7 separate regions of the Homo sapiens genome follow, and all the other regions are linked to region 6. Evidence: fine-mapped expression QTL. A gene starts in region 6. Each other region holds a variant in brackets. All regions are shown on one strand. Distances are between the middles of the regions. Region 1 has its middle 120 kb from the start of TRIM43. Region 2 has its middle 3.6 kb from the start of MRPS5. Region 3 overlaps MRPS5 (mitochondrial ribosomal protein S5). Region 4 has its middle 30 kb from the start of ZNF892. Region 5 overlaps PROM2 (prominin 2). Region 6 holds the start of ZNF514 (zinc finger protein 514). Region 7 has its middle 400 kb from the start of AQP7B.

Region 1 (4,067 bases), 550 kb before region 6:
AAAAGGAATGAACTACTGGCATATGCAACAACATAGATTAATCTCAAAGGCATCATGCTAAGTAAAAGAGCCAGACATAAAAAACTGTATACTGTTAGATTCTATTTATATGAAATTCTAGAAAATGAAAAACTGTAGTGACAGAAAGCAGACTAGTGGCTGTATGGGACAACAGATGGCAGGAAGTGGATTGAAACAATGGGAACATTATTTGTTCCTGAGGACACAGGGAAGTAATAGAAATGAACTAATCCTGATTGTGGTGAAAGTTGCACAGCTGTGTTCATATTCTCACACTCACCAAACAGTATATTTAAAATGGATGAAAGTTATTGCATAAAATTATACTTCAAGAAAGCTATAGAAGAAAATTGGCCAGAATGTGAAGGATTTTGGGTTCAACTTAAGGTGTTCGAACTCTATCATTGGCTATAGAAGCACTAAAATGTTTGAAGAAGGGAGAAATGGATGGTGTTGGAGAGAAGAAGCTGAGTATAAGAGTGGTTTTTTTTTTTTTTTTTTTGAGAAGTAATCTTGCCCTGTCACCCAAGCTGGAGTGTAGTGGCACGATCTCGGCTCACTGCAAGCTCTGCCTCCCGGGTTCAGGCCATTCTCCTGCCTCAGCCTCCCGAGTAGCTGGGACTACAGGCGCCCACCACCATGCCCAGCTAATTTTTTGTATTTTTAGTAGAAACGGGGTTTGTCCATGTTAGTCAGGATGGTCTTGATCTCCTGACCTCGTGATCTGCCCGCCTCGGCCTCCCAAAGTGCTGGGATTACAGGAGTGAGCCACCGCACCCAGCCAAGAGTTTTTTATGAATTATGAAATAGAGCAGGGAAGATTATGGCTTGGGTAAAGGTGGGAACAAAGGAAATAGAAATGATCAGATGGATGCAGGAGACTCAGCAATAAAAGAATCACAGACCCTGTGATTGAGGACTAAAAAGATGCGTGTTTTGGCTTGAGCCTTTAGTTTGATGATCTTGGTGAGAGATGCTTGTACAAAGCTGGAGCCAGCTTGGGGAGAAAGTGGGTGGATCCAAGGTCCGGAATTCTATCAAGGAAACAGATTTAGAAATTGGTTTAAGCAGCAGGGCGTGGTTGCTCACACCTGTAATCCCAGCACTTTGGGAGGCCGAGGCAGGCGGATCACGAGGTCAGGAGATTGAGGCCATCCTGGCTAACACGGTGAAACCCCGTCTCTACTAAAAATACAAAAAAATTAGCCGGGCGTAGTGGCGGGCGCCTGTAGTCCTAGCTACTCGGAAGGCTGAGGCAGGAGAATGGTGTGAACCCGGGAGGCGGAACTTGCAGTGAGCCCAGATCGCGCCACTGCACTCCAGCCTGGGCGACAAAGTGAAACTCCATCTCAAAAAAAAAAAAAAAAAAAAAGAAAAAAAGAAATTGGTTTAAGCTAGATGCCAAATTGATTCCACAGGATAGCCAAATATTAGGAGGGCAGGGACAAAGATACTGGCATTAGTGATGTGAGGAGGCATGAGACTCTGTGTGGGAATGGAGGCTTATGGACATGGATTCCTTTTGTAAGGGCCTGCCCTCAGGAAGCCTCTATGTCTGCCAGGTGAAATGTGTAAGAGGGAGCCAAGGAACTAAAGGGATGATTTAGGCCTGAGTGCCAGACAGCATTGCACCACCACTGATAGACCCAGAGAACCCAGAATGGGAGATGCTCAGGGACAGTGGTGGTGAAGAGCAAACACAGAAAGGGACCTTTGATGGCATCCAGTCCTACCTACCTCGCCAAAGCAGACACTTCTGCTATGTCCCCAGTACCATTTGGGTTGAGTGTTCTTCTAGAAACATGAAGTCTACTGCTTTGTGAAGAGTTGGCTCCATTCCTGGACAGCTCTAAATGCGGGTGGTGATGATGACGATGATGATAATGATGATGATGATGATGATGATGATGATGATACAAAGAGGAGCAGGAGAAGGGGACAACTAACATGTATTGAGCAGTCTCCTTGCGCTGGGCATTCTTCTAGGCTGTACATGCACTGTCTTATTTAA[T/A]CCTCAAAATAACACTATAAGGTAGGCACTATAATTATCTATCCTCGTTTTGCAGATGACAAAATGAAGGCACAGAGAAATGATATAGCTTGCTCAAGGTCATACAGAAGTGGTCGATCTGGGATTTGAACCCATGTCATCTGATGGCAGAGCCTTCACAAGCCTGGCATGTATTGCTTGCTAGTGATTCCATATCTACCTGTCTGTAATTTCTGTCTAATTCCATTTTCTGTAGGAATTCAAATCAGTAAACAAAAAATTTTTTGCATCTTTTCAAATGTGTTAAGACAGCAAAGTGTACATTTCCTCTGAATTTTCTCTTCTGTAGGTTAAATACATCCATTCTATCAAGTGTTCCATAAGAGAAGATAATTCTAGTGCCCTTACCATCTTGGTCCTCCTTATTGAATATCCCTGAGTTGGTCATAATTCTCACTGAAGGTGAAACCTAGAAGTAAACACAGTACTCCCAGTATGACTCAATCTGAATGGAGTAAAATAAGAGAATGCAGTGCATGATGGTTCCCTGTGTCGGGGCAGAGCAGATGGCAAGAAGACTAGGCCTGGAGACAAGCCCACTGTAAAAGGATGGGGTGATACTGAATCAGAAAAGAAGACGAAACAATGAGTTTAAGGAGGATAAGAACTGAGAACTTAAACAGATCTGCTGGCTTAGGGAGAGTCATTGGGAAGAAATGCAGGAGCTATGGAAAGAGTAGGCAATGAGCCAGCAGGAGGGACTACTTGTTGTCCTCTCTGTTTACAAAAGGAAAGGGAAGAAGACAGTGGCTGGTGGGAGGTGGAACACACAGAAGGATCAAGTAAGAGGTTGTTTATATGCTAGGAAAGTGGGGATAGTGAGTAAGGCAGGGAAAGGATTGTCAATAGAGAGGAAAGAATGCACGAAGAGGGAAAGACTGAAGTTGCTGCAGCCAGAGTCAGATGGAGGCCACAGGTGAGATGAAAGGTAAAGGAAGCACTTTGTGGGTAGAGAGCGATATCTGAAGGTAAAGAGAAGGAGGGCTGATAATACCCCTCACATAGTGCTTCATGGTGTGCAAAGGTTTTCCATGTTCATTATCTCATTGGATCACACACCAATCCTGAGAGGGGAAATATTACTATTTATAGTTTATCATGGAAGACAATGGAGAGTCAAAGAAGGTAAGTGACTTTTCCAGTGCTATAAAAGGAATACAATTTTCTGATTTCTTGTCCCTTTTCCTGACTCTATGACTATAGCCTATTATACTGTGTCCCAGAGAGCTCAGTAAGATATGAATCAAGACCATGTCCCAAAAGGGAACCAGGATAAGTGGATTGTTGAGAGAAATTAGGAACTAAGGCGAGCTGGGAAAATTGAGCGCATTGTTTAGAAAAGGGGTCAATGACAAATAGAGAGTTGGTCTGGCAACATCAAGAGCAACAAGGAAGATAGCCTAAGTCTGCACTAATTTAAAGGAGGCCAACCCCAACCTTCTCCTGTGTCCTGAGAAACAATACTCCATCCATTAATCCCACTGAATTTAATGAATGTCACAGTGCATCAGAGAAACAGTAGGTGATTCAGAGCAGGAGCAGGAGTTTTGTGCAGCCAGACACAGGGTACAAGGTATAAGACGTACATGAATCAGGATGATGGTCATGCCAGGCAGGATGTTACCAAAGAATGACGTGCCTGCACAGAAACCCATAGGAAAGAAAGGGGACTTGGTGGAAGGGGGTGATCTAAGAAGGTTTCTCGGGAGTGCTGAGCCCAGAATTTCACACATGTATAAGCACAGTGGTGAGAGTTGCTACAAAAATTAAGAAACCTCAATGTTAGTGAATGTGTTTGGCTGAAGACAAGTCCTTTTACTAAAAGGGCTGTAAAGCTCTCCCATAAGGGTTGGCAAAGGAAGGCTTTGTAAAATCTGTTGTGGAGAAGGGGCATGATGAGTCAACATGACATTGAAACTGTCCATGAGAAATCAGGTTAGGAGGCTAATGAAACATGGTGTGAAGGCCTAAACCAGGGTTCTGGCAATAATGACGG
Region 2 (4,067 bases), 35 kb after region 6:
CACAATCATCAGAATGGCCAGGCTCACTAGGACCTTTGGTGTTGACCTTTGGTGTTTCTGGAAATAAAAGAGATGGAGAACCTACTGAAGTCTTACTGGATTTGTATAGGCAGAAAAGATCTAGGCCTAGTGAACAGAAGTCTGACTTGAATCACCAAAAGAGGGAGTCATGTCTCCTCAATCAATTCCCAGACTTGAGTGAATTCACAGATCCAGAGTCCCTCGAGTGAAGGGCAGGCTGGGTCCCCTCTCAGGAAAGGCATTGGTACACTACCAAAAACGTACAGCTAATCTTCCTTTCAGCCTTCCCCAAAGGTACTTGTAGCCATTTACCAGGGTGACTATGCATCAAGGACAGAGAAATATCCAGATGTTTTAAGGATTACTCAACACTGCCTCTGAGCTGACACCAATTCCTGGAGACCCGAAATGTCACAGTGACCTGTCAGAGCAGAGGCATAAAGAGATCAGGTGATTGGTGGAGTTTTAGGTCAGGTCTGTCTCACGGTGGGCGCAATAGGTCCCAGAACCCATCCCGTGGTTATTCCTGTAGCTATGGGAGGCCAAGGCAGGAGGATTGCTTGAGGCCAGGAGTGTGAGGCTGCATTGAGTTATGATAGTGCCAGTACACTCAGCCTGGGCGATACAGCAAGATCCTGTTTCCAAGAAAAAAGAAAAGAAAAAAAAAGAAAATGGGCTCACATGTAGAATATACAAAGAATTCTCAAAACACAGCAGTGAAAGAAACCAAACAATCCAACTAGAAAATGAGCAAAAGACATTTTACTCAAGAGGGTATACAGATGGCAATTCTAGAAGCACATGAAAAGAAATTCAACATCATTAGCTATTAGGGAAATGTAAATTAAAACCATGATGATATGTCACCATACCTATGAGAGCAGCTAAAAAAAATGGGGATAACACTGAATGTTAGTGAGGATACAGAGAAACTAGATCTTTCACATATTGCTGGCAGGAATATAAAATGGAATGGCCACTTTGGAAAGTAGTTTGGCAGTTTCTTTCTTTTTTTCTTCCTTTCTTTCTTTCTTTCTTTTTTTTTTTTTTTTTTTTTTTTGAGATGGAGTTTCACTCTTGTTGCCCAGGCTGGAGTGCAATGGCTCAATCTCGGCTCACTGAAACCTCTACCTCCTGGGTTCAGGTGATTCTCCTGCCTCAGCCTCCTGAGTAGCTGGGATTACAAGTGTGCGCCACTACACCTGGCTAATTTTTGTATTTTTAGTAGAGATGGGGTTTCACCATGTTAGCCAGGCTGGTTTCTAACTCCTGACCTCAGATGATCCACCCACCTTGGCCTCCCAAAGTGCTGGGATTACAGGCGTGAGCCACCATGCCCGGCTGGCAGTTTCTTTAAAAACTAAACATATACTTACCACACAATCTAATAATCTCACAGCTTGACATTTATCCCCCCAAATTAAAACTTATAGCCACACAAAATCATGTACATGATGGATATATTTCAAAATAATTGAAAGCAGAGATTTGAAGAGATTATCTGCACACTCATGTTCACAGCAGCATTATTCACAATAGCCAAAAGGTGAAAGCAACCCAAGTGTCCATTGACAGATGAATGGATAATAAAATATGATCTATTCATACAATGGAATATTATTCATAATATTAAAAGTAAGGACATTCTGGCACACGCTATACCTGGATGAACCTTGAGAACAACATGCTAAGTGAAATAAGCCAGTCACAAAAGGACAATACTATATAACTGCACTTACATGAAGGGAGAGGGGAATGGGGAGTTATTGTTTAATGGCTGCAGTTTCAGTTTTGAAAGATAAAAGACTTCTGTGGATAGATGGTGGTGATGGTAGCACAACAACGTGAATGTACTTAATGCCACTGAATTGTACACTTAAAAATGATTAAGATGGTCCAGGTGTGGTGGCTCACGCCTATAATCCCAGCACTTTGGGAGGCCAAGGTGGGTGAATCACAAGGTCAAGAGATCGAGACCATCCTGGCTAACATGGTGAAACCTGTCTCTACTAAAAATACAAAAATTAGCTGGGC[A/G]TGGTGGTGGGCGCCTGTAGTCCCAGCTACTCAGGAGGCTGAGGCAGGAGAATCGCTTGAACCCAGGAGGCGGAGGTTGCAGTGAGCTGAGATCATGCCACTATACTCCAGCCTGGGCGACAGAGCGAGACGCGACGCGAGACTCCGTCTCAAAAAAAAAAAAAAAAAAGGATGGCAATTTTTATGTTATGTGTATTTTACCACAATTTTAAAATTTCTGGCTGGGCACAGTGGCTCATGCCTGTAATCCCAGCACTTTGGGAGTCTGAGGTGGGCGGATCGCTTGAGGTCAGGAGTTTGAGACCAGCCTGGGCAACATGGTGAAATGCTGTCTCTACAAAAATACAAAAATTAGCTGGGCATGGTGGCACAGGCCTCTACCTAGCTACTCAGGAGGGTGAGGCAGGAGAATCGCTTGAACCTGGGAGGGGGAGTTTGCAGTGAGCCGAGATCGCGCTATTGCACTCCAGCCTGGGCGACAGAGTGAGACTCTGTCTCAAAAAAATAAAAATAAAATAAAATTTCTAAATATCAAAAAATCACATACATGAATGTTGATGGCAGCTTTGTTTGAAATAGTTAATAACTGAAGACAGCCTGGGTGCAGTGGCTCACGCCTGTAATCCCAGCATTTTGGGAGGCTGAGGTGGGTGGATTGCTTAAAGGCCAGGAGTTTGAGACCAGCCTGGCCAACATGGTGGAACCCCGTCTCTACTAAAAATACAAAAAATTAGCTGAGTGTAATGGGACACGCCTGTAATCCCAGCTAATCAGGAGACTGAGGCACGAGAATCGCCTGAACCCAGGAGACGGAGGTTGCAGTGAGCTGAGACTATGCCACTGCACTCCAGCCTGGGTGACAGAGCGAGACTCTGTCTTAAGGAAAAAAAGAAAAGGAAAAGGAAAATAAAAATAAAAATAATAATATGAGACAAACTAAATGTCCTACAATGGGTGAATGGTTAAACAAATGTTAGTGCCATGGAATACTACTCAGCAATGTAAAGGAAGAAACTATTGGTACATGGAACTACTTGGATAGACGTCAAGGGTATTATGCTGAGTGAAAAAAAGCCAGTCATGAGATCATGTATTATCTGATTCCATTTATATAATGTTCTTAAAATGATAAAATTATAGAGATGAGAAACAGATTAGTGGTTGCCAAAGGTTAAAGATGGTGGAGGAGAGGATAAAAGAGGGGGTGGGTTTGACTCGAAGGGAGATGCACAGGTGATCTTGGAGATAGAACAGTTCTGTATCTCGATTGTGGTGCTGGATACAGAAATCTACATGTGACACAACTGCATAGAACTACACACACATACACAAATGAGTGTATGTAAAACTCATAAAATCTATGGATTGTACCGATGTCAGCTTCCTGGTTTTGATGTTGTACTATAGTTATGTAAGATGTACCATTTGGGGAAACTGAGTAAAGGATACATGGGACCTCTCTGTACTATTTTTGCAACTTCCTATCTGTATCTTTGAATCTGTAATTATTTCAAATTTAAAAGTTAGAAACAAACGACTAAGTAATCAAAACTTGCTTTGGGCCTTAACAGAGTCTGGAGGCTTGACCATTGACCAGCAACTTACCATGCAGTTTAAGCTGCTCATCATGAACTGGCTGTTGTATGATCACCAAGCCATAAAGTTGTGTGTGCACAGCAACACTCCATCATCGAATGGAAGTGGTACATATGAAACTGAACTGGAGCAGGACCTGAACATGCAAGCTACATGATCTTCTCTCTCTCAACCCCTACCCACAGCTTCATGAGGAATTACCTGTGACCAGTTGCCTGAAGAAGAAAACTCTTGGGCTTGGTTTACTCATGGTTCTGCATGATCTGTTGGTATCACCTGAAAGTGGACAGCTGCAGTACTGCAATCCCACTCTGGGATGCTTCTGAAGGACGGCGGTGAAGGGAAATCCTCCCAGTGGGAAGAAGATAAGAGTAATGTGCCTGGTTGTTCATTTTGCCTGGTTAGAAGTATAGATC
Region 3 (4,067 bases), 73 kb after region 6:
GCCTCCTGAGTAGCTGGGACTACAGGCACGTGCCACCATGCCCGGCTAATTTTTGTATTTTTAATAGAGATGGGGTTTCACCATGTTGGTCAGGCTGGTCTTGAACTCCTGACCTCGTGATCCACCCGCCTTGGCCTCCCAAAGTGCTGGGATTACAGGCGTGAGCCACCGCGCCCAGCCTAGACTTGTTCTTTTATGTGATATCTTTGTTTTCTTTTAGTCTTTTAAACCTTCTGATATAGTTACCATATGTCATCTCTCCTAAAATGCCATCAGCTATAAAAGGTTGCATTATTTAATATGTCACTCAAAAAGGAAAAGATGCCACCACTTTAGGTGATATGCCTTTGATTGAAAGATACACCAATATAAATTATTTTGTTTATGAAATGGCTCATCTGTTTTCTAATTTCACACATACTGCAGGGCATTAGATATATAATTAGAATAGTGCAAGGCAGCCATAAGGCCTGGGATCACGGGATTGACATAGCAGGTATGTCATTGTACCATGAATAACGTCTACTGAACTAATCTGCCTGCTTCCAGATCTCTGTGGCTTCCCTCTGCAGTGAATCCCCATGGCCCTGTTACCCAGCTCATGACCAGTCTTGCTTCTTAGTACACCCCCAGTTATTTTGAACCAAATCTCAGACATTTTATTTCAACCCTAAATATTTTAGTATGTATCTTCGAAAAGATGAGGATTTTAAAAAATACCCTGTAATACTATTATCATACCTAAAAAGTTAACAGTAACTTGTATCATCAAATATCCAATCAATGTTCATACAAATGAGCAAATTCCATTTGTTAGATTAAAAAAAATTTTTTTTTTTTTTACACAATGTGTTTGAATCAGGTTGCAGAACAGGTTAATGTATGTTTTTGCTATGCCTTTTAAATAGGTTCCCCTCCTCTTCCCCCACCCCCGCCCCGCTTATGATTTTTTGTTGAGGAAACCAGGTTGTTTGTTTTGTAGTGCTTCCTGGCCTGTTGCTGACTAAAATACCTGTAGGGTCCTTAGTGTCTTATCTCCCCTATATTTACTGTAAATTGGTAGTTAGATCTAGGGGGTTGGTGAGATTCAAGTTCAGTGTTTGGCACAGCATGGTGCATAATCAGGAGGGTTTAGAAGGCAAGAGACCAGAGGCCAAGGCCCTTCCTCTATCCAAGTTTGGGGTGGGCAGATGCAGCAGATGAGGCTGAAATGACTCCACCCATGACAGGTTATTAGAGTTTAGCCACAAAACACATTAACCCAAATCCACTGAAATGGCCTTTGAATACCCCCAGGCTGTACTGTTGTGGCCTGTGGAAGTTCCTGCTCTTTATGTTGCAAATGTACTTCAGACCTAACCTGTTCTGAATTTGGTCTTGCTTAGGAAACCCATCAACAGCTGGCTGATAAGAAGGGCCTCCATGTTGTGGAAATCCGGGAGGAATGTGGCCCTCTGCCCATTGTGGTTGCGTCCCCCCGGGGGCCCTTGAGGAAGGATCCAGAGCCAGAAGATGAGGTTCCAGACGTCAAACTGGACTGGGAAGATGTGAAGACTGCACAGGGAATGAAGCGCTCTGTGTGGTCTAATTTGAAGAGAGCCGCCACGTAACCTCTCTGGCCTTGTGCAGCCAGTTCCTGTGCTGCCCTGCACCTAGGAGAGACTCAGCCCCTCACAGCTTGGGATGTTACCTTGCCTTTTGTTTGTTTTGAGGGAAGTTTAATCTTTAAACTCTTTGGAAATAAATAATTATAGCTTTCATTTGTTGAGCACATGTTATATGCCAATGTGATAGAACCTTTACATACATATCTCAGTTCAAGACTACTTTAAATATTCATCCAAAGTAACAAAAGTAAATGAATTAGGGAGACGGGGTTAATAATTTGACCCAATCAGTAATAATGTACACAATGATAATTGCTGTAGTAATTATAGCTAATATATATGAACTCATTCATCCAAAGTGAATGTGATTAACTTCATTTTACAGAGCAGTTAAGTAACTTGACTACCGTGAGGAACTTCCAAACCGTTTTCCACAGTGGAAATGGAAGTTGTAGGCTACTATTGGGAATGTTAAATGGTATATTAATTGTATACCATTGCAATTTTGACTTGTATTTCCCTGATGGCTGATGATGTTGAACATCTTTTCATGTGCTGATTGGCCATTTGTATATGTTTTTTGGAGAAATGTCTATTCAGAGCCTTTGCCCATTTAAAAAGTTATTTTTTATTATTATTGAGTTCCTTATAGTTTCTAGATATAAGCCCCCCTATCATACATGCTTTACAGAAGTTTTTACCCATTCTGTGGAATATATATATTTTTATTTCTTTGCATACTCTTTCTGCCCCACCCACATCCTCTTTCTGGGACACTGATGACCAAAATGTTGAATCTTTTACTATTGTCCCGTGAGTCCCTGAGGC[G/A]CTGTTTATTTTTTTTCCAGTCTGTTTTCTCTGTGTTGCTCAGTTTAGGTAATTTCTATTGTTTTATCTTCAGAATAACTGGTTATTTACTCTTTCCTTTCCATTCTGCTCTTGAACCATCCATGCAGTACTTTAACTTTGACTGTCATTGTATATTTCAGTTAAAATTTCCATTTGGTTTATTTTTTATGTCTTCTCTTTATTTGCTGAGGCTATTTGCTGAGACTTTTTTTTTCTTTAAATGGCTTCAAGAGTGTTTATAATTGCTCACTGAAGCATTTTTATGGTGGCTGCTTTAAAATCTTTGTCATCAGGTAGGTGTGGTGGCTCACGCCTATAACCCCAGCACTTTGTGAAGGTGAGGCAGGAGGATTGCTTCAGCCCAGGAGTTTGAGATCAGCCTAGGCAACAAAGTGAGACCTCATCTCTACAAAAAGTAAAAGTAAATTTAAAAGTTAGACACACATGGTGGTGTATGCCTGTAGTCCCAGCTACATAGGAGGCTGAAGTGGGAGGATCATTTGATTGCAGGAGGTTGAGGCTGCAGTGAGCCTTGTTCATGCCACTCCAGCCTGGGTGGCAGAGTGAGACCTTGTCTCCAAAAAAAAAAAAAAAATTGTCATAAAGTTTCAACATCTGTGTCATCTTAGTGTTGACATCCCTTGAGGTTTTTTCTCATTCAAGTTTACAATGTCCTAGTTCTTGTTATGATGAGTGACTTTGGCTGTATCCTGGTCATCTTCACTGTTATGAAGCTCTGGGAGTTATTTAAATCTCTCAGCATGCTTCCTCTGACGGTGCTGGTATGGGATGGGGCACTGCCTCGTTACTGCCTGGTGAGGATGGAGATCCAGGTTTCCTCCTGTCGCTGTCCTCGGGACCTCTGCTGAGGCCTTTCTGCTGGAAGTAGGAGGAGCACCCTAATGGCACCGTGGGATAGGGAGCAGGCCATGTTAGGCTGGATGGTGAAAGTTTTCAGCCTGTGACGTTGTCTGGTGTGGGTGGGTCCCCTTTTTTTGTGTGTGGTATTTTGCTAGAGTAAGGTAGTTATTTCCTAAAACTTATCTGTCCTGTTAGTTTTCCTTCTTAAGTACCTAACAAATATAAAGACAATGAACTTTAAGCAATAAAAGACAATGATCCTTTGGAGAGGGGAAACAAAATTATCTGTACTTACTATCTGCGGAGAGTCCGTGGTTCTAGGAAGGGTTACCCCATCAGGACCTGGCGGTCTCCTGGAGTTGAGGTGCAGTTGGGCAGTCGAAATGACTAGAGTTCACAGGGGAGAATGCCTTGGAGGAGAGAGTTGCACAGCAGGAGAACTAAGATCTGCAGAGAGTTTCCATCAGATATTTAGTTACACACTAATAGTGCATGCCGGTGAGGAAACTCACCCAAAAGAATTAGAGGGAACAGTGTTTGGAGTGGAAAATAGTGCCTGTTATCAACAGTCACAGTGGAAAACCTTGTAATCTAGGTGGCATTGGAAGAGAACTAAGATGCCCTAGTAGTAGAAAAATTAACTCTACATAAAAACTACCCCTGGTCCCAACTCAGAAAGCTTAAAAACAAGACCAAACTGGAACACAACTGTTTCAAAGTAACTTAATTGTGTTCCAGAACAAAGCTCAA
Region 4 (4,057 bases), 78 kb before region 6:
CTACTTAAGCTTATTTGATATGTTAAATATTGCAATAAAGCAAGTGACACAAATTTTTTGTTTCCTAGTGCATATAAGTTATGTTTAAACTATCCCGTAGGTCAGACACAGTGGCTCATACCCGTAATCCCAGTACTTTGGGAGGCCGAGGTGGGTGGATCACCTGAGGTCAGGAGTTCAAGACAAGCCTGGCCAACATAGTGAAACCCTGTTTCTACTAAAAATACAAAAAAAGTAGCTGGGTGTGGTGGCAGATGCCTGTAATCCCAGCTACTAGGGAGGCTGAGGCAGGAGAATTGCTTGAACCCAGGAGGCTGAGGTTGCAGTGAGCCAAGATTGCACTATCGCACTCCAGCCTGGGTGACAGAGCTAGACGTGCTCCAGCCTGGGCGACAGAGTGAGACTCCATCTAAAAAAAAAAACAAAAAACTATCTTTTTGCTGGTGGAGGGTCTTGCCTCAATGATGATGGCTGCTGACTAATCAGGTCGGTGGTTTCTGAAGGTTGGGGTGGCTGTGACAATTTCTTAAAATAAGACAACAGTGAAGTTTGCCACATCAATTGGCTCTTTCTTTCACAAAATATCTGTGTAGCATGCTGTCTGATAGTGTTTTACTCACAGTAGAACTTCATTCAAAATTGGAGTCCCTCCTCTTAAACCCTGCTGCAGCTTTGTCAACTAAGTTTATGTAACATTCTAAATCCTTTGTTGTCATTTCAACAGTGTTCACAGCATCTTCACCAGGAGTAGTAGATTCCATCTCAAGAAGCTACTTCCTTTGCTCATCCACAAGAAGCAACTGTCTGTTCAGGCTTTACCATGAGATTGGCAACAATTCCAATTCAGTCACATCTTCAGGCTCCACTTTTTTTTTTTTTTTTTTCCTTTGAGACGGAGTTTTGCTCTTGTCACCCAGGCTGGAGTGCAGTGGTGTGATCTCGGCTCACTGCAACCTCCACCTCCTGGGTTCAAGCGATTCTCCTGCCTCAGCCTCCTGAGTAGCTGGGATTACAGGCACGCGCCACCACGCCCTGCTAATTTTTGTATTTTTAGTAGAGACGGGGTTTTACCATGTTGGCCAGGCTGGTCTCGAACTCCTGAGCTCAGGTGATCCACCCACCTCTGCCTCCCAAAGTGCTGGGATTACAGGCGTGAGCCACCGCGCCTGGCCCAGGCTCCACTTCTAATTCTAGTTCTCTTTCTCTCTCTGCCATATCATCAATTACTTCCTTCACTGAAGGCTTGAACCCTGCAAAGTCATCCATGAGAGCTGAAATCAGCTTCTTCCAAACTCCCAGTAATGTGGATATTTGATCTCCTCTCATGAATCACGAATGTTCTTGATGGCATCTAGAATGGTGACTCCTTTCCAGAGGCTTTCAATTTACTTTGTTCAGATCCATCAGAGGAATTACTGTGGCAGCTATAGCCTTACGAAATGTGTTTCTTAAATAATAGTAAGGCTTGAAAGTTGAAATCACTCCTTGATCCATGGGCTTCAGAGTGGATGTTGTATTTGCAGGCATGAAAATATTAATCTCCTTGTGCATCTCTATCAGAGCTCTGAGGTGTTTAGGTGCACTGTCAATGAGCAGTAACATTTTTCTAAGCAGTAGGTCTCAGCCCTGGGCTTAAAATACTCAGTAAACCATGCTATAAACAGATGTGCTGTCATTCAGGCTTTGTTGTTCCATTTATAGAGCACAGACAGAGTAGATTTCACACAATGCTTAAGGGCCCTAGGATTTTCAGAATGACAAATGAGCACTGGCTTCAATTTAAAGTCACCAGCTGCATTAGCCCTAACAAGAGAGTCAGGCTGTCCCATGAAGTTTTGAAGCCACACATTGACTTCTCTCTAGCTATGAAAGTCCTAGATGGCATCTTCTTCCAATAAAAAGCTGTTTTGTCTACATTGCAAATCTGTTGTTGCGTGTAGCCCCCTTCATCAATGATCTTAAATATCCTGGATAACTTGCTGCATTTTCTCTGTCAGCACTGGCTGCTTTCATCTTGCACTTAATTTATGTGATGGAGCTGGCTTCTTTCCTTAAACCTCAGGAACCAACCTCTGGTAGCTTCAAACTTTTCTTCTACAGCTTCCTTACCACTCTAAGCCTTCATAGAATTCAAGGTTTGCTCTGGATTAGGCTTCGGCTTAAAGGAATATTGCAGCTGGCTTGATCTTCTATCCAGACCACTCAAACTTTCTCCATGTCAGCAATAAGGCTGTGTTGCTTTGTTATCATTTCAATGTTCACTAGAGTAGCACATTTAATTTTCTTCAAAAACTTTTCCTTTGCATTCACAACTTCGCTAACTGTTTGGTGCAACAGGCCTAGCTTTCAGCCTGTCT[C/T]GGCTTTGGACATGCCTTCCTCACTAAGCTTGATCATTTCTAGCTTTTGATTTAAAATGAGAAACATGTGACTCTTCCTTTCTCTTGAACACTTAGAGGCCATTGTAGGGTTATTGATTGGCCTAATTTCAATACTGTTGTGTCTCAGGGAAATAGGGAGGCCCTAGGAAGGTGGGGAGGGGAGTGTCTGGTCAGAGGAACAGTCAGAACACACATTTATCAATTAAGTTCACCATCTTAATGGCGGTTCATGGTGCTCCCAAACAGCTACAATAATAGCATTAAAGATCACTGATTGGAGTTCAAGACCAGCCTGGCCAACATGGTGAAACTCTGTCTCTACTAAACGTACAAAAATTAGCCAGGCATGGTGGTGGGCACCTGTAGTCCCAGCTACTCGGGAGACTGAGGCAGGAGAATCACTTGAACCCAGGAGGTGGAGGTTGCAGTGAGCCGTGATCGCGCCACTGCACTCCAGCCTGGGTGACTGAGGGAGACTCTAGTCTCAAAATAAAAAAAAAAAAAAAAAAGCTCACTGATCATAGATGACCATAACAGATCCAACAATGGTGACAAAGTTTAAAATATTGTGAGAATTACCAAGATGTGACACAGAGACACGAAGGGAGCACATGCTGTTGGATAAATTGTGCCCATGCAGGGTGGCCACAAACCTTCCATTTGTAAGAAACACAATATCTGCAAAGTGTAATAAAGAATCAAAGTGCAATAAAAATGACATATGCCTGTATGTGAAATTCCTAGAAATTTTTCAATGCCCTTAGTGTCCATATAATCAGTCATAATTCTATGTATCTTAAGGTATTGTATTCCACAGAAATAATAAAATTTTCTTGCCAACTCTATTATAGTAAACTCTCACCATATCCTCAATCATGACTATTCTAGAAGGTTGTTATTTTTTGTTTGTTTGTTTTGTCTATCACAGACAGTTGTTATACTCTGATGCTTTCCTGAAAGCTCTTACAACCAGCTACAGACAAAAGTGTTTCATCTTCAAAGAGATTCATGGAAAGACTCTGACAAGTACTATGCAATGATACAGGCTCCTGACAATGTTCAGATCATACCACTGAATGTGGTAAAAATTTCCACAGCTCTAATGAAAAAAATGGATGGATTCAGAAAACTGCTAATCCAAGATAGAGCAGAACGAGAATTAATTACATGGAACTAAATGAACCAAAGAAGATGATTGTAGTTTTTATAACTGTTTAAAACATTGGTGATTCTTTAATGTCTTGTTTACCATATTTAAGGAAACTCTTTTCTCTTTTCTCTTAAGCTATCTATACCTTACAGCAGTCTGGTAAATTATACCTTTGTAAATAACGTTGAGACATTTCTCCTTTACTTCCTACTTGATTCCTCCAGAATTCTGGAAACTTTGAGTATTCTTATTTTTATGGCAATATAGTTGTTTGCATAGGTTCAACAAGAATCTAAAACAAGACACAATTTGAAAACATTAACTATATTGCCAAGGCTTTGACTGGAATGTCCTATTTTCAGATATGACCAGACAGATTTAAGGAACTAGAGGTGACTTCGTGGAATCAGTAAAGCCCCCTGACTAAACCAGCCTGACTCCTTGCCCACAGAGTCCCCTGCCTTCCAGGTGAATAAAGAAGGCTACTTCCTAGTGGGCCCAAGCAGTTCAGGAGATCTCTGATGAAAAT
Region 5 (4,067 bases), 120 kb before region 6:
CCAGCTGCTCCATGCTGGTCTTCACCACGGGCCTCTGGATCTGCAGGTGGACAGAAGAGGCCAGGAGGGATGAACCCAGCTCCCCTGGGGCCCACCACCACCTGATCCCAGCCTCCAAATCCCCAGTCTTATCAAATATAACCTACACCAGCTAAGTGTATTGTGACACATCAGTCACAGTGAGTTTTCCCTGGAACTGTGAAATATTTCAGACATTTTCCCAGTGAGATAGAAACAACAAGAACAAATAAGGCACCCTCTGGTGTAACTAAGGAAGAGGCAACTTCCCAATGCGTCCTCGGCAGCAGTGGGTTCAGGACCATGAACAGCAACACATGCTGTTGGGTTGGGGGAGAGGTTGTCCATTCCTGTGTGACCGGGGTGGTGGCAGGAGGACAGGCCCAGGGGCACATGATCTGGGGACACCTCCACAGGAAGAGGCCCCAGGAAATGTGGAAGAGCCAGAGCTGGGACAAGGCAAGATGCACACCCAGCTCCTCTGTGGGCCCCTTCGTTCCATCACCACCTGCTGAGGAAGCCCTGCTGAGGTGCCCACCGCTGACCTGAACGAGGAAGTCGGGGTAGTGGATGCGCTGAAGCCCACTGCTCTGCAGGGCCTCCAGGTCCCGGCGGGCGGCTGAGCTCAGCAGGTCCAGGCTCTGTGTGTCTACTTTCAGGCTCTGCAACTCCTGCCGTAGCTTGTTGGTATACTGGGAGAGCAGGCGCAGGGTGGGAGTCATGCCCAGTTGCTGAGCCAGGACCCCAGAGATGCTCCCCTAAGCACAGGGGTCACCAGGCGATATGGTTTGGATATTTGTCCCCTCCAAATTTCATGTTGCAATGTGATCCCCGGTGTTGGGGGTGAAGGTGGGCCTGGTGGGAGGTACTAGATCACGGGGGCGGATCCCTCACGTATGGCTTAGTGCCATTGCCATGTGATGAGTGAGTTTTGCTCAGTTATTTCACGTGTTTGAAAGAGTGTGGCACCTCTGCGTTGGCTCTCTCGTTCCCTCTCTCCCTATGTGATGTGCTGGCTCCCCTTGGCCTTCGGCCATGAGTGGAAGCTTCCTGAGGCCTCCCCAGAAACGGCTGCCGGTGCCATGCTTCCTGTACAGCCTGCACTTAAACCTCTTTTCTTTATAAATTATGCAGCCTCAGGTATTGCTTTTTTTTTTTTGGTTGGGGAAGCGGACAGGGTCTTGCTCTGTTGCCCAGGCTGGAGGGCAATAGCACAATCACAGCTCACTGAAGCCTAGATCCCCCGGGCTCCAGTGATTCTACCACCTCAGCCTCTCGAGTAGCTGGGACTACAGGTGCAAGAAACCACACCTGGCTTTTAAAAAAAATTGTAGAGGAGGGTCTCCCCATGTTGCCCAGGCTGTTCTTGAACTCCTAGGCTCAAGTAATCCTTCCACCTCAGCTTCCCAAAGTACTGGGATTACAGGCATGAGCCACCATGCCCCAGCCTCAGGTATTCCTTTATAGCAACACAAGAACAGACTCACACAGCAGGCCCTCAGGGCCCCCTGCCCTGGACACCCCAAGCCCC[A/T]GACAGGCTCCCAGTAGGCCCCTGCCCCAAATGCCAAGACCTGGCCTTCCTCCAGTGCCCATCTGGCTTCTGGGCAGAGACACAGACCTTCCCTGGCCACCTGAAATAAAATAGCTCTCTCAGCCGCTCTTTATCCCATCAGCTGTGTCGAGGCCTTCAAAGCACTTGTTGCTCTGAAATGATCTTATTTGTGGGTTAATTGTTCAATGCTGTCAGCTCCACAAGAGTGGGACTTTGCCTGCCTATTCAGCCCCAAACCCCCAGCATCTAACTCGGAGGGTCACACATGGTGGGCAGGAGACAAGTTTGTTAGCTGTGTGAATGAATGAATGAATGAATGAATGAATGAATGAATGAAACTGTATTTTCAGGAAAGAGCCTTAGCATTTTCCTACTATCACTGGAAGAGATTTAGAGGTCATAAAAGTCAGCCCAGTGTTTAACAGATAAGAAACTGAGGTCAGAGTGGAGCGTCCACTTGCCGAGGTTACACAGGTGGTTAGAGACTGCAGCCCAGCTTGGCTCTCCTCCCCGCATCCCTCCAGGCTGCCTTCTCCTGGAGGAGAAAAGGCCTGGCCCTCTCGGGTGGGGGCCTTCGGGCCGTGTCTCAGGCATCAGTGGCAGCAGCTTCAGGAGAAGTGGAAAGGTGGCTGGTGCCCTCCCCGTGCTCTGGAAAGCCCTGTGTGTTACTCATGTCTGCCTACCCATCAGTGTCTCCTTTGAGGACGAGGATTCTTACAGCCACATTTGGTACATTGTCAGGTGGCCTCAGAGGACTGCCCAGTGCATCTGAATCCAAAGCCCTATCTATCCAGACTCTCCTGTGAGCTGGACCCTCCCCTGCCAAGGACCAGAGCCCAGGACTCCTCCCCTCGAGAGCCATGGCTTCCTGCCAGTAGAGGATGGGGGCTCCTCTGCCCAGGCCCCTGGTTCATCCCTCCCTGGCCAGGCTTCCTCCACAGGGCAGTGTCTCAGCCTAGCACTGAGATATCGCCTGCTCGGGGAGCTCCTGTCTGGTTAAAGATGCGGAAGGAGGAGTGAGCTGCATAACTGTCCCAGGTTGTGCAGTTCAAGGTACAGAGTTGGGGCTGGGCCATCCGGCTGTGCTGTCCGTGGGCCGAGGCTGGTTGGTGGATCCAGGGGTTGGAAGGGTTTCCCAGAACGATGCAAAATCAGGAGTTAGCATGCTCTGTGTTTGGGGAGGGCGAGGGGAACCAGGGCCAGGGGATGTGGGTTTCCCCAGCATATGCTTAGGAGCGTGGAAGTCGAGGAGTGAATGTCTTCCAGCTGCTGTGCACCATGAGGAGAGCCCCATTCTCAAAGTCCATCCCTCTTGTGAAACAGCCCTTCCTTGCCTTCATTCTAGAACTGTCTCTTTCCAGCATTGGCAAGTGTCTCCAGTTCTACACACCAAGTTCCAGTAACTCCAGAGGTTACAGGAAGAGGCTTGTCAGGCTGGGGATGGAATCCTGCCACCACCACCTCCCACCTGCGTGAGCTTGGCAGGCCCTCCACCAACGTTAGCCAGACTCACCACCATCCTTGTCACTGCCACGTCCTTCCCCAGCCTCCCCCTCCCAAGTGGAGCATCCCAGCCAATGCCTGTCCTCAGTCAGGACACATGGGCCCCCTCATCCTCCTGCTCACTGTCACCAGCCTTTCCTGCTGCCACCTTGGCTGTGCTTGGGGCTGGACATAGCCTTCAGGTGCACACGGACCCACCTACACACCCGGAACCTTCCCCAGAGCTGATAACTGGGCCTCTGCCCTTGGGCACCTTAATCGCTCACACAGACTTCTCAGGTCTCCTAGGTTCAAAGAGACGGTGCCTCCACAGAGGCAAAAAGACCAGAGGAGGGGGATCTGAGGAGGGCTCCTCACAGTTTCCAAAACGTTCTCTCACCTGGTTGATATCCAGGTGCTCCTCCAGGTCGTAGGAGTCGTTGAGCTGCAGGACTGTCCAGAGCGCTGCCCCTTCCTTGCACTGCCTGAGGAGGAGTGAGGGGTGCAGACGATGAGCCTTGGGGGTGGCGGGGGGGCTGATGTCCCCTGAGGGACACCGGCCCTCCTCCTTCCTTCCCCGGTCCCAGCTCTGCCCAGGCTGTCCACTCACTGATAGGCTTGGTGGATGCTGATGTTCTTCCTCAGGCCAAGAAGTTGCGACAGGTTCATGGACGGGGGCAGGTTCCCTGGGGTGTCTGCAAACTGGGGATGGGGCAGTGAGAAATGGGCACAGAGCGGGGTGGGGGCAAGGCCACCCTGGTCCCCTAGGGCCTGGCCCTGTGCTGCTGTGGCACAGCACAGACCAGGGGTAGGAAACATCCCCTCACCCCAGCTCACACCTGGCCTCTAACTCTGGTGACCCCTGGGCCCCAAATCCTTACAGGGGCTCTTCCCATGAATCCCTAGGAGGGTTGCCCAGCCCGATCTTCTGCAGAGAACCCAGTCCAGCATCGCAGCTCACCGGGCACCAGGGTCCCAGCTCCCAGACAGTGTTAGGAGATGAGAGGGAATGGGT
Region 6 (4,067 bases):
ACCCAGGCTGGAGTGCAGTGTTGCAACCTCGGCCCACTGCAGCCTCTGCCTCCCGGGTTCCAGAGATTTTCGTGCCTCAGCCTCCTAGGTAGCTGGGATTACAGGCGCACGCCACCACACGCGGCTAATTTTTGTATTTTTAGTAGAGACGGGGTTTAGTAGAGACAGGTGTGAGCCACTGCGCCCGGCCGCCAGTCTTAAAAATTTACAAACTGTATGATTCCATTTATGTGACATTCAGGAAAAGGCAAAACTATAGGGAAGGTAACAGAGCAGTGGTCACGGGTTGGGGTGGAAGAGGCATTTGACTGCAAAGGAGCAGTAAAAGGAATATTGAAGGTGATGGAGAGTGTATAGGCTGGTGAGGACTGGAGCCCCACCAACAGTGCTTTGAGATCAAATGGTGCACTAGAGCACTGAGCAGGAGAGAGAATATTCCTGGGGTAATGAATGTGCATTGTAACAAACAAGGGCCTCTGGATCAAGATCTGTCCCAAAGGACACAATGTAAGAGTGGGGAATTTCAGACACTGCAGCAGGCCTACAGAATGGGCATCAGGGAAAGGCAGTGGCCCTCAAGTTCTTCTGAAGTAGTTCCATTTCTAGTTCTGTTGAGCCATCAATGAGATGAAAATCTTTTCTCATTTGTCCATCCCCTCACCTTTTTGGTTCGGAGCACCGAAGATGGAAAAGCTCCTATATCAGCCATGGTTCCCAGACAATGTCCCCCTGCGTGGAAAAGGGCTTGCTTGCTGCGCCATCCTGGCCATCTGTGCCACTGGAAGTGCTGGCAGAAAAGTGAAACAGAGACTGCAAAAGCAGGAAAGGAGAATGGTCTCTTTGCCTTGATTTCGTGTTATTTTGTCTTTGCCTTGATTTTGTAAGTTATTTTGTCCTGAACTCCTAAATAGGGTTGATAAACCAATCTCTCTGTCCTCACAAGTGGCCCTTCTCTGGCTGAGGACTGCCTCCAGAAAACCACCGTTTTAATACTCAGACTGTGTCTTAGGCATTGGCGCTGCTATAACAGAGTGTCTTAAACTGGGGAATTTGTAAACAACACAAATTTGTTGTTCACAGTTCTGGATGCTGGGAAATGCAATATCAACGTGCCAGCCAGTTCAGGGGCTGGTGAGGGTACGTTTCTCATAGATGGCACCTTCTGTGTCCTCACATGGCAGGAGGAGCAAAGGGGGCTTAAGGCCCGTTTTTATTTTTATTTATTTATTTAATTTATTTTTTGAGACGGAGTCTTGCTCTGTCGCCCAGGCTGGAGTGCAGTGGCACGATCTTGGCTCACAACCTCTGCCTCCCGGGTTCAAGCAATTCTCCTGTCTCAGCCTCCTGAGTAGCTAGGATTACAGGCGTGCACCACCACGCCCAGCTAATTTTTAAATATATTTTTGGTAGAGACAGGGTTTCACCATGTTGGCCAGGCTGGTCTCAAACTTCTGACCTCAAGTGATCCGCCCGCCTTGGCCTCCCAAAGTGCTGGGATTACAGATGTGAGCCACCACGACCGGTCTAAGGGCTGTTTTTAAAGGGCACTAATCTCATTCATGAGGGCAGAGTCTTCCAAAGGCTCCACTTCTTAATACTATCACCTTGGGAGTTAGGTTTCAACATATGAATTTGAGGGGGACACATACATTCAGACCATAGCAGGCCGTTTTTCCATTTCTTTTGGGTCCTAAATGATATTTGTTTCTGGAGTAGGAGGGCGTTCAAAGTCCTCTTTTGTTCTTCAGCACCCTTCGCTGAATTCAGGGGCAGATGGAGAAAGGCAAGAGGCACGGGGCAGCCTGTAGAAGCAGTATCTAGCACTGAGTCCCCAGTATCCCCTAGGCACGCCAGGAGAGCCTCCTGGAAATCCTCACTCAGCAGATCCAGGGTAGGAACGCGGCTTCTGTTGAATAGCCTTACATCGAGATATGCAGGTTGGGGGCGGTGGCTCACACCTGTAATCACAGCACTTTGGGAGGCTGAGGCGGGAGGATCATCTGAGGTCAGAATTCGAGACCAGCGTGGCTAACATAGTGAAACCCCGTCTCCACTAAAAATACAACAAATTAGCTGGGCGTGGTGGCGGGAACCTGTAATCCCAGCTCCTACGGAGGCTGAGACACGAGAATTACTTGTACCCAGAAGACAGGTTGCGGTGAGCCGAGAGCGCGCCCCTGCACTCCCACCTGGGCGACAGAGTGAGGCTGTCTCCCCCCTCCCCCCAAAAAACGAGAGAGATATGAGGCTCAGCTACCAAAGTCACGCGCGAGAAGGGAAATGCTTGTAGGTCCCTGCCCTTGGGGGAGAGCGGAGTGAAAACCGGCGCGTGGCCGGCGAGCACGGCCCCTCCCAGCGGAGGTCCTACAGGCGCCCGCGAGCCCCGCCTCTCCAGCTTCGCCGCGCCAGCACCCCGCCACCGGCGCTGGCTCTGAAGGGCCCCGGCGGCGGCCGCGTCTGCGCAAGCTCGGGACGGCCTCGGGAGGCGGGGCTGGCGCGGGGCGGACGCGGGGGCTGGCGCGGGGCGGACGCGGGGGCTGGCGCGGGGCGGACGCGGGGGCTGGCGCGGGGTGGCGGGCGGGGGCTGGCGCGGGGTGGCGGGCGGGGGCTGGCGCGGGGTGGCGGGCGGGGGCTGGCGCGGGGTGGCGGGCGGGGCCTGGTCCTGTGAGCGTTCGGAGACTGCGGGCGCGCAGACCTGTACTGGGCCCGCGCCCCGGCCCCTTACAGAGCTGGGTGTGTCCCTCCGAGTGCCCCCCGCTAGGGACTGTGCAGGCCGGAGCTAGGCAGGGACAGCGGGGCGAACCGGGCTGATAGAGTCGGTCCCTGCTCCTGTGAGGCTCTCACCGAATCCCTGCTGTTTCCGGGCAGCTGAAGAGCGCTGGGCCCTCGCGTCGCGGGCGTGGCTGTGGCCGTGTCTCCTGGTAGTCTGAGCCCACTGTGCGTGTGGATCCACGTGGGAGCTGGGTTCCAGAGCCTGGTCCTGAGGAGGAGCCGAGCCGGGGGTAGGAGGCCGGACTTGGCGAGGGAAGAGCACGACCCCGGGCAGCAGTGCGCCGCGCTGGGCGCACCGGGGTTTGCCGGCCCTGCTCTGGGCCCTGCAGGTCCGCTGGCCCCGCCGCGCCTAGTGGGGATGCCCCGTGTCCCCCAGGCAGCCCCAGCCTGCGTCCCGCTCCCTGAACCCTCGGGAGGACCACAGGGCTGTGGCCGAAAGACAGAGATTTGGACCTAGTGAAAGGACGCCGCTCCTTAGCCCCAGCTATGGACTCCACAGCATCAGGTTTGGCTCTGGAGCGTGCAGAGGGCCAGGAGCCCTCTTGGGGAGCTAGTACCGAGCCCGATATCAGGAGGACCCCAGGAAGAGGCCGGGGAATCCCACTGAAGGGTGAGGCTGTACTTCATCTGCCTTCCGTGTGGCGACATCTAACCTTCCAGACCCAGAAGGCTGAAGCCGCAGTCTCCTGGGTCTGGCAGGGGTCTCTAGATGACCGTGGCGGAGGTGGAGGGGATGGCCATGGAAAATTGTCCCAATGGCCAGAGGAGAGCAGAAGAGGATCTGATCTCTTCCTGCTGCGGCAGGGAGAGGGCAAGCAAACCCAAGAGGGAGTGGCCCTTGGCCAGGGATCAGAGGACGATAGGGCCATTTGGAGCCTTGTCATCCACCTCCTTAATCACCTCACTAATAAGGTTCTTCCAGTCGTTCTAGCTCAGCGGTGTATAAGGTCAGCAGTGTACATGGTGGGTATCTCCTCTGAGCCCCTTCCCCCAATAGCGTTGGGGGCAGGGCAATCCAGGTGACCCAGGAGGTTTTAAGCCAGTCCTAAGTTTAGAACGTCCTATCTCTAACCAGGTGGGCATTTTAATCCGACTGTTCATCCTTCAGTGCACATGCTCAAGGACACATAACTGGCCAGTGGAAGAACTGGGCCCAGTCCGTGGGCTTCCCACCCCCTCTTTTTTCCTTTATACCCTTGTTAATCAGTGTGGCTCTGGGAACAGCAGAGGCATTGCCCAGAAGTTCTCTAGAATTGCAGACTCTGGGGCCCCACACATCCTCAAACAGTGTCTTA
Region 7 (4,067 bases), 970 kb after region 6:
CATAGGGGTTATACTGGAAATAAAATGTACAACATTGGAATCCCTAAGGAGAAAAGTCCTAAAAGTTTCAATATCAAGAATCCCGCACCTGCTGCTACTTATCTAGCCTTTTGCTTGATTTCTGGCTGACGAAGTTGCACAACTCTTGAAAACTAAAAACCTTGAAAATTTGTCACTTGAAAACTACTTGAACCAAACTATGAAATCTGACCTGCTATATAAGATGGAATTGTTACAATTATTTTAAACTTCAATTTAGTGTTCTGCTCTATCAAAAGAAAGTTTCAACTCTGTTAGTTGAGTGCACACATCCTAAACAAGTTTCTGAGAATGCTTCTGTCTTCTTTTTATGGGAAGATATTTCCTTTTTCACCATAGACCTCAATGCGCTCCAAATGTGCACTTCCAGATACTACAAAAAGAGTGTTTCAAACGAGCTCTATGAAAGGGAATGTTCAAATTTGGGACTTGAATGCAATCCTCACAGAGATTTTTCTGAGAATGCTTCTGTCTAGGTTTTATATGGACATATTCCCGTTTCCAACGAAATCCTCTAAGCTATCCAAATATCCACTTGCAGATTCTACAAAAAGAGTGCTTCAAAACTGCTCTATCAAAAGAAAGATTCAACTCTGTTAGTTGAGTACGCACATTCCAAACAAGTTTTGAAAACTGCTTCCGTCTAGATTTTAGGCGAAGATATTCCCTTTTTCACCATAGACCTCAAAGAGATCTAAATGTCCATTTCCAGATACTACAAAAAGAGTGTTTCAAAGCTGCTCTATGAAAGGGATTGTACAACTCTCTGACTTCCATGCAAACATCACAAAGGTGATTCTGCGAATGCTTCTGTCTAGATTTTCTATGAAGATATTCCCTTTTCCAAGGAAATCCTCAAAGCTATCCAAATATCCACCTGCAGATTCTACAAAAAGAGTGTTTCAAAACTGCTCTATCAAAAGAAAGGTTCAACTCTGTTAGTTGAGTAAACACATCACAACGTAGTTTCCGAGAATGCTTCTGTGTAGTTTTTGTGGCAAGATATTTCGTTTTTCACCTTACACCTCAAAGCGATCAAAATGTCCACTTCCAGATACTACAAAAAAGTGCTTCAAACCTGCTCTGTGAAAGAGACTGTTCAACTCTGTGACTCGAATGCTAACATCCCAAAGAGGTTTCTGAGAATGCTTGTGTCTCGATTTCATATGAAGATTTTCCCATTTCCAACGAAATCCTCAAAGCTGCCCAAATATCCACATGCAAATTCTACAAAAAGAGTGTTTCAAAACCGCTCTATCAAAAGAAAGGTTCAACTCTGTTATTTGAGCAAACACATCACAAACTAGTTTATGAGAATGCCTCTGTCTAGTATTTATGTGAAGATATACCCTTTTTCACCACAGGCCTCGAAGCGATCCAAATGTCCACTTCCAGATTCCACAAAAAGAGTGTTTCAAACCTGCTCTATGAAAAGGAACGTTCAACTCAGTGACTTGAATGCTACCACCCCAAAGATGTTTCTCAGAATGCTTCTGTCTAGGTTTTATATGAAGATATTCCCGTTTCCAACGAAATCCTCAAAGCTATCCATATATCTCCTTGCAGACTTTGCAAAAAGAGTGTTTCAAACCTGCTCTATGAAAGGGAATGTTCAACTCTGTGACTCGAATGCTAACATCCGAAAGAGGTTTCTGAGAATGCTTGTGTCTCGATTTCATATGAAGATTTTCCCGTTTCCAACGAAATCCTCAAAGCGGTCCAAATATCCACATGCAAATTGTACAAAAAGAGTGTTTCAAAACTGCTGTATCAAAAGAAAGGTTCAACTCTGTTAGTTGAGCAAACACATCACAAACTAGTTTATGAGAATACTTGTGTCTAGTTTTTATGCAAAGATATTCCCTTTTTCACCACAGGC[C/T]TCAAAGCGATCCAAATGTCCACTTCCAGATTCCACAAAAAGAGTGTTTCAAACCTTCTCCATGAAACGGAATGTTCAACTCTGTGACTTGAATGATAACACGCCAAAGATATTTCTGAGAATGCTTCTGCATAGATTTTATATGAAGATATTCCCATTTCCAACGAAATCCTCAAAGCTTTCCAAATATCCACATGCAGATTCTACAAAAAGAGTGTTTCAAAACAGCTCTATGAAAAGAAAGGTTCAGCTCTGTTAGTTAAGCACACACATCACAAACTAGTTTATGAGAACGCTTCTGTCTAGTTTTTATTCGAAGATATTCCCTTTTTCACCTTAGGCCTCAATGCGATCCAAATGTCCACTTCCAGATTCCACAAAAAGAGTGTTTCAAAACTGCTCCATGAAAGGGAATGTTCAACTCTGTGACTTGAATGCAAACATCCCAAGGATGTTTCTGAGAATGCTTCTGTCTAGATTTTATATGAAGGTATTCCCCTTTCCAACAAAGTCCTCAAAGCTATCCAAATATCCCCTTGCAGAGTCTACAAAAAGACTGTTTCAAGAGTGCTCTCTCAAAAGAAAGGTTCAACCCTGTTAGTTGACTACACACATCACAAACTGGTTTCTGAGAGTGCTACTGCCTAGTTTATATGGGAAGATATTTCCTTTTTCACAATAGGTCACAAAGCACTCCAAACGTCCAGTTCCATATACTACAAAATCTCGTGTTCACACCTGCTCTATGAAAGGGAATGTTCAACTCTGGGACTTGAATGCAATCCTCACAGAGATTTTTCTGAGAATGCTTCTGTCTAGGTTTTCTATGGACATATTCCCGTTTCCAACGAAATCCTCTAAGCTATCCAAATATCCACTTGCAGATTCTACAAAAAGAGTGTTTCAAAACTACTCTATGAGAAGAAAGATTCAACTGTGTTAGTTGAGTACACACATTCCAAACAAGTTTTGAAGACTGTTTCCGTCTAGTTTTTAGGCGAAGATATTTCCTTTTTCACCATAGACCTCAAAGAGATCTAAATGTCCATTTCCAGATACTACAAAAAGAGTGTTTCAAAGCTGCTCTATGAAAGGGAATGTTCAACTCTCTGACTTCCATGCAAACATCAAAAAGGTGATTCTGCGAATGCTTCTGTCTAGATTTTATATGAAGATATTCCCTTTTCCTAGGAAATCCTCAAAGGTATCCAAATATCCACCTGCAGATTCTACAAAAAGAGTGTTTCAAAACTGTTCTATCAAAAGAAAGGTTCAACTCTGTTAGCTGAGTAAACACATCACAACGTAGTTTCTGAGAATGCTTCTGTGTAGTTTTTGTGGCAAGATATTTCCTTTTTCACCTTACGCCTCAAAGCGATCAAAATGTCCACTTCCAGATACTACAAAAAGAGTGCTTCAAATCTGCTCTATGAAAGGGAATGTTCAACTCTGTGACTCGAATGCTAACATCCCAAAGAGGTTTCTGAGAATGCTTGTGTCTCTATTTCATATGAAGATTTTCCCGTTTCCAACGAAATCCTCAAAGCTGTCCAAATATCCACATGCAAATTCTACAAAAAGAGTGTTTCAATACTGCTGTATCAAAAGAAAGGTTCAACTCTGTTAGTTGAGCAAACACATCACAAACTAGTTTATGAGAATACTTGTGTCTAGTTTTTATGCAAAGATATTCCCTTTTTCACCACAGGCCTCAAAACGATCCAAATGTCCACTTCCAGATTCCACAAAAAGAGTGTTTCAAACCTGCTCCATGAAACGGAATGTTCAACTCTGTGACTTGAATGCTAACACGCCAAAGATATTTCTGAGAATGCTTCTGCATAGATTTTATATGAAGATATTCCCATTTCCAATGAAATCCTCAAAGCTTTCCAAATATCCACATGCAGATTCGACAAAAAGAGTGTTTCAAAACTACTCTATGAAAAGAAAGGTTCAGCACTGTTAGCTGAGCACACACATCACAAACTAGTTTATGAGAATGCTTCTCTCAAGTATTTATTCGAGGATATTCCCTTTCTCACCATTGGCCTGAATGCGATCCAAATGTCCACTTCCAGATTCCACAAAAAGAGTTTTTCAAACCTTCTCCATGAAATGGAATGTTCAACTCTGTGACTTGAATGCA

The links. PIP is the estimated chance that this variant, and not a neighbour inherited with it, causes the effect.
Region 1: its variant is fine-mapped to the expression of ZNF514 in whole blood (TOPMed, PIP above 0.99).
Region 2: its variant is fine-mapped to the expression of ZNF514 in whole blood (TOPMed, PIP above 0.99).
Region 3: its variant is fine-mapped to the expression of ZNF514 in lung (TOPMed, PIP above 0.99).
Region 4: its variant is fine-mapped to the expression of ZNF514 in whole blood (TOPMed, PIP above 0.99).
Region 5: its variant is fine-mapped to the expression of ZNF514 in whole blood (TOPMed, PIP above 0.99). The same link has a PIP of 0.9 or more in breast, sun-exposed skin, thyroid and tibial artery.
Region 7: its variant is fine-mapped to the expression of ZNF514 in whole blood (TOPMed, PIP above 0.99).

What each region holds. Positions count from the first base shown.
Region 1 is chr2:95,705,852-95,709,918 of GRCh38, reverse strand. No RefSeq gene overlaps it. Among named protein-coding and RNA genes, the nearest start is that of TRIM43, 120 kb to the right of the region's middle. The variant T/A (reference allele first, on the strand shown) is at 2,033.
Region 2 is chr2:95,123,386-95,127,452 of GRCh38, reverse strand. It overlaps a transcript of ZNF514 not described here. Among named protein-coding and RNA genes, the nearest start is that of MRPS5, 3.6 kb to the right of the region's middle. The variant A/G (reference allele first, on the strand shown) is at 2,056.
Region 3 is chr2:95,084,900-95,088,966 of GRCh38, reverse strand. It overlaps MRPS5 (mitochondrial ribosomal protein S5), which reads left to right. Exons shown (of 12, transcript NM_031902.5): 12 at 1,386-3,598. The coding sequence ends at 1,610. Among named protein-coding and RNA genes, the nearest start is that of MRPS5, 35 kb to the left of the region's middle. RefSeq lists an enhancer at 949-1,514. The variant G/A (reference allele first, on the strand shown) is at 2,436.
Region 4 is chr2:95,235,972-95,240,028 of GRCh38, reverse strand. It overlaps a transcript of ZNF892 not described here. Among named protein-coding and RNA genes, the nearest start is that of ZNF892, 30 kb to the right of the region's middle. RefSeq lists an enhancer at 1-41. The variant C/T (reference allele first, on the strand shown) is at 2,358.
Region 5 is chr2:95,281,612-95,285,678 of GRCh38, reverse strand. PROM2 (prominin 2) reads right to left here. Exons shown (of 24, transcript NM_001165978.3): 13 at 3,663-3,754; 14 at 3,453-3,537; 15 at 564-710; 16 at 1-40. Among named protein-coding and RNA genes, the nearest start is that of PROM2, 9.2 kb to the right of the region's middle. The variant A/T (reference allele first, on the strand shown) is at 1,550.
Region 6 is chr2:95,158,175-95,162,241 of GRCh38, reverse strand. ZNF514 (zinc finger protein 514) reads left to right here and starts at 2,394. Exons shown (of 5, transcript NM_032788.3): 1 at 2,394-3,002. RefSeq lists a silencer at 2,318-2,567.
Region 7 is chr2:94,185,499-94,189,565 of GRCh38, reverse strand. No RefSeq gene overlaps it. Among named protein-coding and RNA genes, the nearest start is that of AQP7B, 400 kb to the left of the region's middle. The variant C/T (reference allele first, on the strand shown) is at 1,919.